Linked DNA regions of Homo sapiens: region 2 is linked to region 1. The links come from fine-mapping of genetic effects on gene expression. A gene starts in region 1. The other region holds a variant in brackets. All regions are shown on one strand. Distances are between the middles of the regions.

Region 1 (4,386 bases):
ACAGATTCCAGGAGATCCTGTTCCTCTCTTCTCACTGGCATGATCCTCTGAGGCAGAAGGTTGAGAACAAAGGAACAGGACAGCCACAACAAGCTAAGGTCTGGGCAGAGAAGAAATCCAAACTTGTTGAGCAAAAGAAATCAAGAACAAGCAAATACCAGAAGGGAACAGCCAAAAGTTTTTCAAAGTTATGGAGAACAGCAAGGAAAATGGTCCAAGAGTCCAGCAAAGAGTAATGAGGAGGGCCATGGCACATAGGGAGGAGTGGTGAAGACTGAAAAATACGTGAGCAGCCAAAGAAGGTGCCTAACAGTGAGGCAGCATCCTAGTTCTGGTTCAGCTAACTCACATTCCTCTCACCATGGGGTGAACCAATTCTCAGCTACCCTGGGGGGAAGGCTTGTTGAAGATGACGCCTGCAGAAGCTGACTGGCAGAGTAGTGGACTCTGGGATGGGATACCGGCAGGGGCATTTCCCCACCAGCTTCACCCTGGAGATAACTCCATGTTTCAGAACCTGTTACCTTTTTCCTCAAACATGAGCTATTTTTCCTAGTTTCCTTTGAAAGATCGGACCGAAAGTCAAGTTTTCGTGGTTTAGGCTCACCCTTCAAAACACCCGAAATAACTTTTGCAGAAATCTTCCTCATGTTCAAGTTTTCTTTCAAAATGAGCCTAACAGTTTCTTTGTCTAAATTTAACTCTTCAGCCATCATCCTCACGGTTAACTGCCTGTTTGAACAAACCAAGTCCTTGACCTTCTGGATATTGTCATCTGTTCGGTGGGTGACTGGACGCCCACTTCGGGCATCATCTCGAACATCTTCCCGTCCTTCTTTAAACCTTTTGTGCCAGTCAAAAACTCTGGCCCTTGACATGACTTCATCCCCATAAGCTTCTTTTAAAAGATGGTGGGTCTCACTTGCAGACTTGTTCAATTTCACGCAAAATTTGATACTAATCCTTTGTTCTAAATAGCGGTCACTCATTCTGGCACTGAACAACACAGGAACGTTTAACAGGCCACGACTGTAAGGGAAAGACGGACAGATCAATCTTTATAGGGCTGCAGGTGTAATCATATCGCTCTTCTTGCTCTTCTAGAAGCCTCGCCGGGAAAGAGTAATTGCTTTTATGAATTTTTGTCCCTCAGCTTCCAGTCGAGGCTGGGGAGATCCGTTCTGGGAAGCCAACAGTCGCTGCAAAGCTGGGAAAAATTAAATCGCCTACAACCACGTCTGCATCAAACCAGTGCACGCACATCTGCCGAGAGTTTGCCAGTCACCAAGGTCGCTCCGATTCCGCGGCCCTTAAGGAGTATATGGCGAATTCTGCAAGAAAGGCCTAAGTGGTGGCAAATTAAGCAAGCAAGAAGAGATGCATCGGTGATGTAACGTGCAAGCTCGCCCTAGATCTGCAGAAACCCGCGCACGCCAAACCTACCGGAGCAGCCCAGGAACCGCCTGCTCTAGCGTCCCGGGAGACAGGCGCGCATGCGCAATTCTCTCTCCCCGCGGATTAGACTGTGCGCAGTCGCACTGCGGCGGCGCGCGCCAGGTCCCGCCTCCGCCTCGCCACACCCCGGCAGGCGCGCTTCCTTGCGCGTGCCCGCCTGCTGAGAAGGCGGAAAGGAGGGGCGGGGGAGGAAGGCTGAGGGAAGAGAGGGCACCCCCGGGCGTCAGGGTGCATTGTGGGAAGGAGGCGGCAGCGTCTCGGGCGGGCGGGAGGTGCACCAGCGGCGGCGGCGGCGGTAAATCCTCCCGGCCGCTCACAGCACTGTGGAGCCGCGTCCCCAGCCCGGCCTCGGACCGCGGCACCCCTCCTGGCCCTCGCGGCTTCTAGCCCGCCCGCCCCTCCCCCGCGCGTCGGCCCTGCCGAGCCGGCCGGCCGGCCTGGCTCCCCTCCCCGGCCCCGACGGGCGGGCGGACTGCCCTGAGGAGGCGGGGAGGGGAGGGCTGGGCCGGCCGGCGGGCGGGCGACGATGCCGAACTTCTGCGCTGCCCCCAACTGCACGCGGAAGAGCACGCAGTCCGACTTGGCCTTCTTCAGGTTCCCGCGGGACCCTGCCAGGTAAGCGGCGGGCGCAGAGCGGGCGGCCCGGGCCCACCTTCGCGGTGAGCGCTGCCAGCCGCCGGCCCCTGGCGGGCTCCCGGGCTGGCTGAGAGGGGCGCAGGAGGCGGGCGCAGCGCACTGCCGTCGACCCCAGCGTTGGACCGAGATGGGGAGCCGGCCCCGAGCCGTGGGCGGGCGGGCGTCCGGGGACCTCGGAGCACGTGCGCTGGTGGGGGCTCTGCGCGGAGGACACCACCCCAAACGCGAGGGAGCTGGGGCGGCGCGCGGACGCGGGATGCTGTGGGTTCTCGCCGTGGCTCACTTGCTGTGTGACCTCGGGGGAGTCGCTTTCCTCTCTGGGCGTTAGTTTCCTTAGCTGTCAAAAGAGAGCAGGACTCTATGGTTGTGGCCACTGGGGCCTTTCCCTCTCCTTGCCACCACCCCCGGGACAGTGTTTCTGTTTTGAGTCCCGCTACCTTCTTTCATCTCATCGCAACTGCTTTCTCCTTCGGACTTGTCATTGCACGGTTCAGGATTCATTTTCTGGCTGTCACCGTTACTCATTTTCTCGCTTGGGTATTGTAGGGATAACAGAGGGTGTACGCGTGAGGGCGTGGAAATTGGTATTGGAACCTCTTCCTTCGGATAACCCCCACACACTGACATATTTAGGGAATGATAGCATAGGGACTGTGTTTGAAAGGCTGAGATGTTTCATAGGCCTGTCTTGTTGGTTCATTCATTTAAAATCAATGCCTACTATGTGCCGAGCGCAAATGTTAGGTGCTGGGAGTTCATGGGTGAATAAGGGTGTCACTGCTTGCAGAAAGCTCTCAGTCCAGTAAGGGAACAGGTGCAGCAACGGGCGACTATAATTTATGTTATTTATTAATTAGTTCAATTAATTATTGAAGGTCTACTTGTGTTGGCATTGTTGTGAGCAGTGGGGGTTACAGATGAACAAATCGAAGTCCTTGCTTTCATGAAGATTACATTCTAATGGGGGGGGAATAAACAAGTAAAATACGTAGTGTGTCGGATGATGATAAATACTGTGGAGAAAAATAAACAAAGGTTAGAGGGTAGGGGAATAAGTAGTATCAAGGGACGCACAATTGCTATTTTAAATACAGTGATTAGAGAAGGCCTCACTAAGAAGGTGAATTTGAGCAAAGACCAGGTGAAGGGGCCAGCCATGGAGATACCTTGGGCAGCAGCATTCCAAAGAAGGCAAAGACAGGGCAACCAGGAGTCCAGGGAGAGGGACTGGGAGAGAGGTGAGATGAGACCAGAAAGGTGTGTGTATGGTAGGGGCAAATTCTTTAGGTAGGACCTTGTAGGTCTTGGAAGGCACTATGGTTTTTATTATGAGTGAAATAGGAAGTCATTGAAGGGTTTAGAGCAGAGACTTAAATTTTAACAGGATCAGTGGCTGCTCATTAGATTGTGGGGAGGCAAAGGTGAAAGCCGGAAGACCAGTTAAAAGGCTGTTGTAATAATCCAGATTAATAGAGGAGGAGATGGTAAATTTGAGATATGGTTTGAAGGTGAAGCCAACATCATTTGCTAATGGTTTGGAGGTAGATTGTAAAAGAAAAAGAGAACTTAAGGACGACTTCAAGATTTTAAAAATCTATGTTGGCCAGGTTGGTCTTGAACTCCTGGCTTCAAGCAGTCCTCCTGTGTCGGTCTCCCAAAGTGCTAGAACAGGCTCTGAGCCACCGCGCCCAGCCGACTTCAAGATTTTTAACGTGAGCATTTGCTGAGATAGGGAAGACTGGGAAGAGCAGGTTTGGTAGAGGAATACTAGAAGTTTGGGTTTGAGAGACCTGATAGACATTCAAGAATAGATGTCTAGGCCGGGCATGGTGGCTCACACCTGTAATCCCAGCACTTTGGGAGGCCTAAGCAGGCGGATCACTTGAGGTCAGGAGTTCGAGACCAGCCTGGCCAACATAGGGAAACCCTGTCTCTATTAAAAAATACAAAAATTAGCTGAGCCCAGTGGTGCGTGCCTGTCCAGCTACTCAGGAGGCCAAGACGTGAGAATCGCTTGAACCCAGGAGGCAGAGGTTGCAGTGAGCCGAGATCGTGCCACTGCACTCCAGTCAGGGTGACAGAACAAGACTCCGTCTCAAGAAAGAAAGAATAGATGAAAAAAAAAAAAGAATAGATGTCTTTCTTCATACCATATACAGAAATGAACTCCAAATGGCCTATACTTTTATTGAGATCAAAGGCCTAAATATAAGAGCTATGTCATTAAACTTTTAGGAAAAAAATACAGATAAATCTTCATGACTTTAGATTTGGCAGCACATTCTTGTTTGTTTT
Region 2 (4,386 bases), 45 kb after region 1:
CCTGACACTTGATTTGAGGGAAGTTCATATCTGTGGGAGGTGGGTGGGAGTGAGTGGGAGACTGATGAGAAAACCGGCTAGTTACAAGATGGCACAATAAAAGCAATCCTTGAAGGGGAAAGGCTCAGGAAAGCCTTCCCTGGAGTGGGAGGAGGGGGGCAGGCAGAGGTGCAGTGAGGCTTCTTTTAAAATTTGCACACCTGTATTTGACATGGACTGGGCCACAGCTGCCCCCTCCCATCATCCCAACTTATCCTACATTCAGTGTCCTGACACCACATGATGGAAAACTGAAAAATAGTCTCTGTCTAGCAGCTCAGAATCAGGACTGGGGAAAAGGAGGAAAGTAACTGCTGCTAGGGACCTACTATAGGCCAGGCACTTTAATCTACTTTAACTTAAAACTAGCCTGTGAGATAGATAGACCCATTGTAGAGTTAGGAGGAAATGAGGTTCAAAGAGGGTAGACAATTTGCTGATGTGACGGTTCCAGAGGAAATTGCTTATAAGGATAAGTAGGTCAGGCCAGGTGCTGTGGCTCATGCCTGTAATCCCAGTACTTTGGGAGGTTGAGGTAGGCTGATCACTTGAGCCCAGCAGTTTGAGACCAGCCTGGGCAACATGGTGAGACCTTGTCTCCATTAATTTTTTTTTTTTTTAATTACCTAGGCATGGTGGTGCACTTGTGTGGTCCCAGCTACTAGGGAGGCTGAGGTGGGAGGATCACCTGAGCCCAGGAGGTCCAGGTTGTGGTGAGCCATGATTGTGCCACTGCTCTCCAGCCTGGGTGACAGTGAGACCCTGTCTCAAAAAATAAAAATAAATAAAAAATAAATGAGGATAAGCAGGTCAATAGGCCTCCCCATTTTGGGTCCTTTTGGAGGTCCACCCTCCTATGGCCCCTGAGAGGGGCAGTATAGGGGTGTCCAGTGAGCTGCAGAATCTGGGTGGGAAGTGAGTACAGCCCAGTTTCCACAGAGCCCTACCAGTTTCTCTGGTCAAACTAATTCAGGTGCCCTCTCCTCTGGAGTGCCCATGGGGATGGTCTAAAGGACAAGAACAGGCAATGCAGCAAGACACTCCTAGATCACTGTCCAGTGGTGGCAGAGACTTGGTGGCAGTGTTCTCATTCTCAGAAAAGAATGAGAGACCAAGGGGAAGGCTGAGGAGAGGGACCTTTCACCTGTTTCTGGGGGCTGCCCAAGAGCCACCAACAGGCTACTGTGGGAACCTCAGTCCAACCTGTAGAGCTCAAGATCCTGCCTAAACCACCCACAATGAGTAGAATTGTGGACAGGAATAGCAAACTACTGCATGCCACCACTCATTAACCCGGTCACAATCACTCCCAATGATCTAATTCTCCACTTCCCCATCCACCTATCACTTCCTCCTCCCTCCTTTCAGTCATTCCCCTATTGCACTCAGTAATTTATTTCTTTCAATGAGTGGGGACACCCGTCAGGCACCTCAAGCACTTTGTTAGGATCCAAGAAGCCTTCATCATGGTGCAAAAAGCATGAGATTCAACCCTTGACAGATGACATAGAACTTTGGCAGAGAGAAACGAGTTAAAACAAAAGCAGTCCCGATGGAAAGAATGGTGGGAGCTAAGGCAGAGAAGTATTAAAGTCTCGGAGAAATGTTGGTGATCATTTGTCATTTACTTTGTCATTTACTTTGACAGAGCAGTGTTTCCCAGGAATGTTTGACCATGGAGAATCTCAGATCAGTGGCCTGAGGAATGCACTTCAGGAAAAGCTGGGAGGTGTGTGTGTGTGTGTGTGTGTGTGTGTGTGTGTGTGTGTACAGGAAGGTGAGGGCATTTGTACTTGCTTCTGGAGGTGGTGATCCCCAACATCTAATACACAGAATACTAGTCCTCAGGGATGCTGTATTAGTCTATTCTTGCATTGCTGTAGAGAACTACCTGAGACTGGGTAATTTATAAAGAAAAGTGGTTTAATCAGCTCATGGTTCCACATGCTGTACAGGAAGCATGGCTGGGAGGCCTTAGGAAACTTACAACCA[C/T]AGTGGAAGGCAAAGAGGAAGTAGGCACATCTTACATGGCTGTAGCAGGAGGAAGAGAGAGAGGAAAGGGGGAGGTGCTATGCACTTTCAAAAAACCAGATCTCATGACAACTCTGTCACAAGACAGCACTGGAGGATGTGCCTAAATCATTAGAAACCACCCCCATGATTCAGTCAACTCCCACAAGCCTTCCCCTCCAACACTGGATTATAATTCAACCTGAGATCTGGGTGGAGACACAGAGCCAAACTGTATCATTCCACCCCTGGCCCCTCCCAAATCTCATGTCCTCACACTTAAAAACACAATAATTACTTCTCAATAGTTCCCTAAGTTTTAACTCAAAAGTCCACAATCCAAATTCTCATCTGAGACAAGGCAAATCCCTTTCACCTATGAGCCTATAAAATCAGAGGCAAGTTAGTTACTTCTAAGATACAGTGTGGGTATAGGCATTGGGTAAATGCTGCCATTCCAAAAGGGAGAAATTGGCCAAAACAAAGAGGCTACAGGCCCATGCAAGTCCAAAATCCAGCAGGGCAGTCATTAAATCTCAAAGTTCCAAAATAATCTCTTAAGACTCCATATCTCATATTCAGGCCACATTGATGCAAGGGGTGGGCTCCCAAAGTCCTGGGCAGCTCCACCCCTGTGGCTCTGCAGGATATAGACCCCTTGGCTGCTTTCATGGTCTGGTGTTGAGTGCCTGTGGCTTTTCCAGCTACAGGGTGCAAGCTGTTGATGGATCTACCATTCTGCCATCTGGAGGATGGTGGCCGTCTTCCCACAGCTCCACTAGGCAGTGCCCCAGTGGAGACTGTGTGGGGGCTCCAGCCCCACATTTCTCCTCCACAGTGCCCTAGTACAGGTTCTCCATGAGGGCTCCACCCCTGCAGCAGACTTCTGCCTGGACATCCAGGTGTTTTCATATATCCTCTGAAATCTAGGTGGAGGCTCCCAAGCCTCAGCTCTTGCTCTCTGTGCACCCACAGGAAGCTGCCAAGACTTGCTTGCACTTTTTGAACAGTAGCCTGAGATACAGCTTGGCCCCTGTTAGGCATGGCTGGGACGCAGGGAGCAGTGTCCCAAGGTTGCGCAAGACAGCAGGGCCCTGGGCCCAGCCAGTGAAACCATTCTTCCCTCCTAGGCCTCCAGGCCTGTGATGGGAAGGGCTGCCGCAAAGATCTCTGCAATGCTATGGACGCATTTTCCCCATTGCCTTGGCTATTAACATGCTTTAATGTAATTAAGTATTTAATAAGTAAAGCTCCTCTTATGCAAATTTCTGAAGCCAGCTTGAATTCCTTCCCCGAAAATGTGTTTTCCTTTTCTACCACATGGCCAGGCTGCAAATTGTCCACATCTTTGTGCTTTGCTTCCCTTTTAAATATAAGTTCCAATTTCAAGTCATTTCTTTGTTTATGCAGGTGAGTGTAGGCTTTTAGAAGCAGTGAGGCCACATCATGAATGCTTTGCTGCTTAGAAATTTCTTCCACCAGATACCCCAGATCATCTCTCTCAAGTTCAAAGTTCAAGAAATCCCTAGAGCACAGGGGCATAATGCTGCCAGTCTCTTTGCTAAAGCATAGCAAGAGTGACGTTTACACCAGTTCCCAATAAGTTTCTCATCTCCATCTGAGACCTCTTTAGCCTGGACTTCATTGTCCATATCACTATCAGCATTTTGTTCACAACCACCACCCCCGTGATTCAATCACCTCCCACTAGGCCCCTCCTCCAGCACTGGGGATTACAATTCAGCATGAGATTTGGGTGGGGACACAGAGCCAAACCACATCAGATGGACTGGAAAAATGGTCCCAGCAGCAAGCGTAGAGAGCACCAGGCCTCAGATGGGTTCACCAGACCCAGCAGCATGTTAAAGGCCACCCCACCCCAAACCTATGCAGCAAAGACACTTGAACATCACTTAACCCTGCATGTACCAAACTTATTTCACCAAAAATCCTTTTGTGTCATGGAACGTCTTTATTTGAGGGAGTGGGGAATTGACTGGTTGTTTGTTTGAGACAGAGCCTTACCCTGTTGCCTAGGCTGGAGTGCAGTAGCACGATCTCGGCTCACTGCAACCTTTACCTCCCAGGTTCAGCCAATTCCCCTGCCTCAGCCTCCCGAGTAGCGTGCCGCCACACCTGGCTAATTTTTGTATTTTTAGTAGAGACGGGATTTGGCCATGTTGGCCAGGCTGGTCTTGAACTCCTGACCTCAGGTGATCTGCCCGCCTCGGCTTCCCAAAGTGCTGGGATTACAGGTGTGAGCCACCGTGCCCAGCTGATTGACTGTTTTTTGAAAAAGCTACCATGGGCTTATGGTATTAATATATTCCAAACAGT

The links. PIP is the estimated chance that this variant, and not a neighbour inherited with it, causes the effect. A credible set is the group of variants that fine-mapping cannot tell apart.
Region 2: its variant is the best candidate, but not a certain one, in a credible set for the expression of THAP12 in whole blood (TOPMed, PIP 0.71).

What each region holds. Positions count from the first base shown.
Region 1 is chr11:76,378,432-76,382,817 of GRCh38, reverse strand. It overlaps THAP12 (THAP domain containing 12), which reads left to right and starts at 1,686. Exons shown (of 5, transcript NM_004705.4): 1 at 1,686-2,070. The coding sequence starts at 1,982. It overlaps GVQW3 (GVQW motif containing 3), which reads right to left and starts at 1,495. Exons shown (of 2, transcript NM_001347885.2): 1 at 525-1,495. The coding sequence starts at 989. RefSeq lists a silencer at 1,408-2,337 and an enhancer at 1,980-2,481.
Region 2 is chr11:76,333,757-76,338,142 of GRCh38, reverse strand. No RefSeq gene overlaps it. Among named protein-coding and RNA genes, the nearest start is that of THAP12, 45 kb to the left of the region's middle. The variant C/T (reference allele first, on the strand shown) is at 2,032.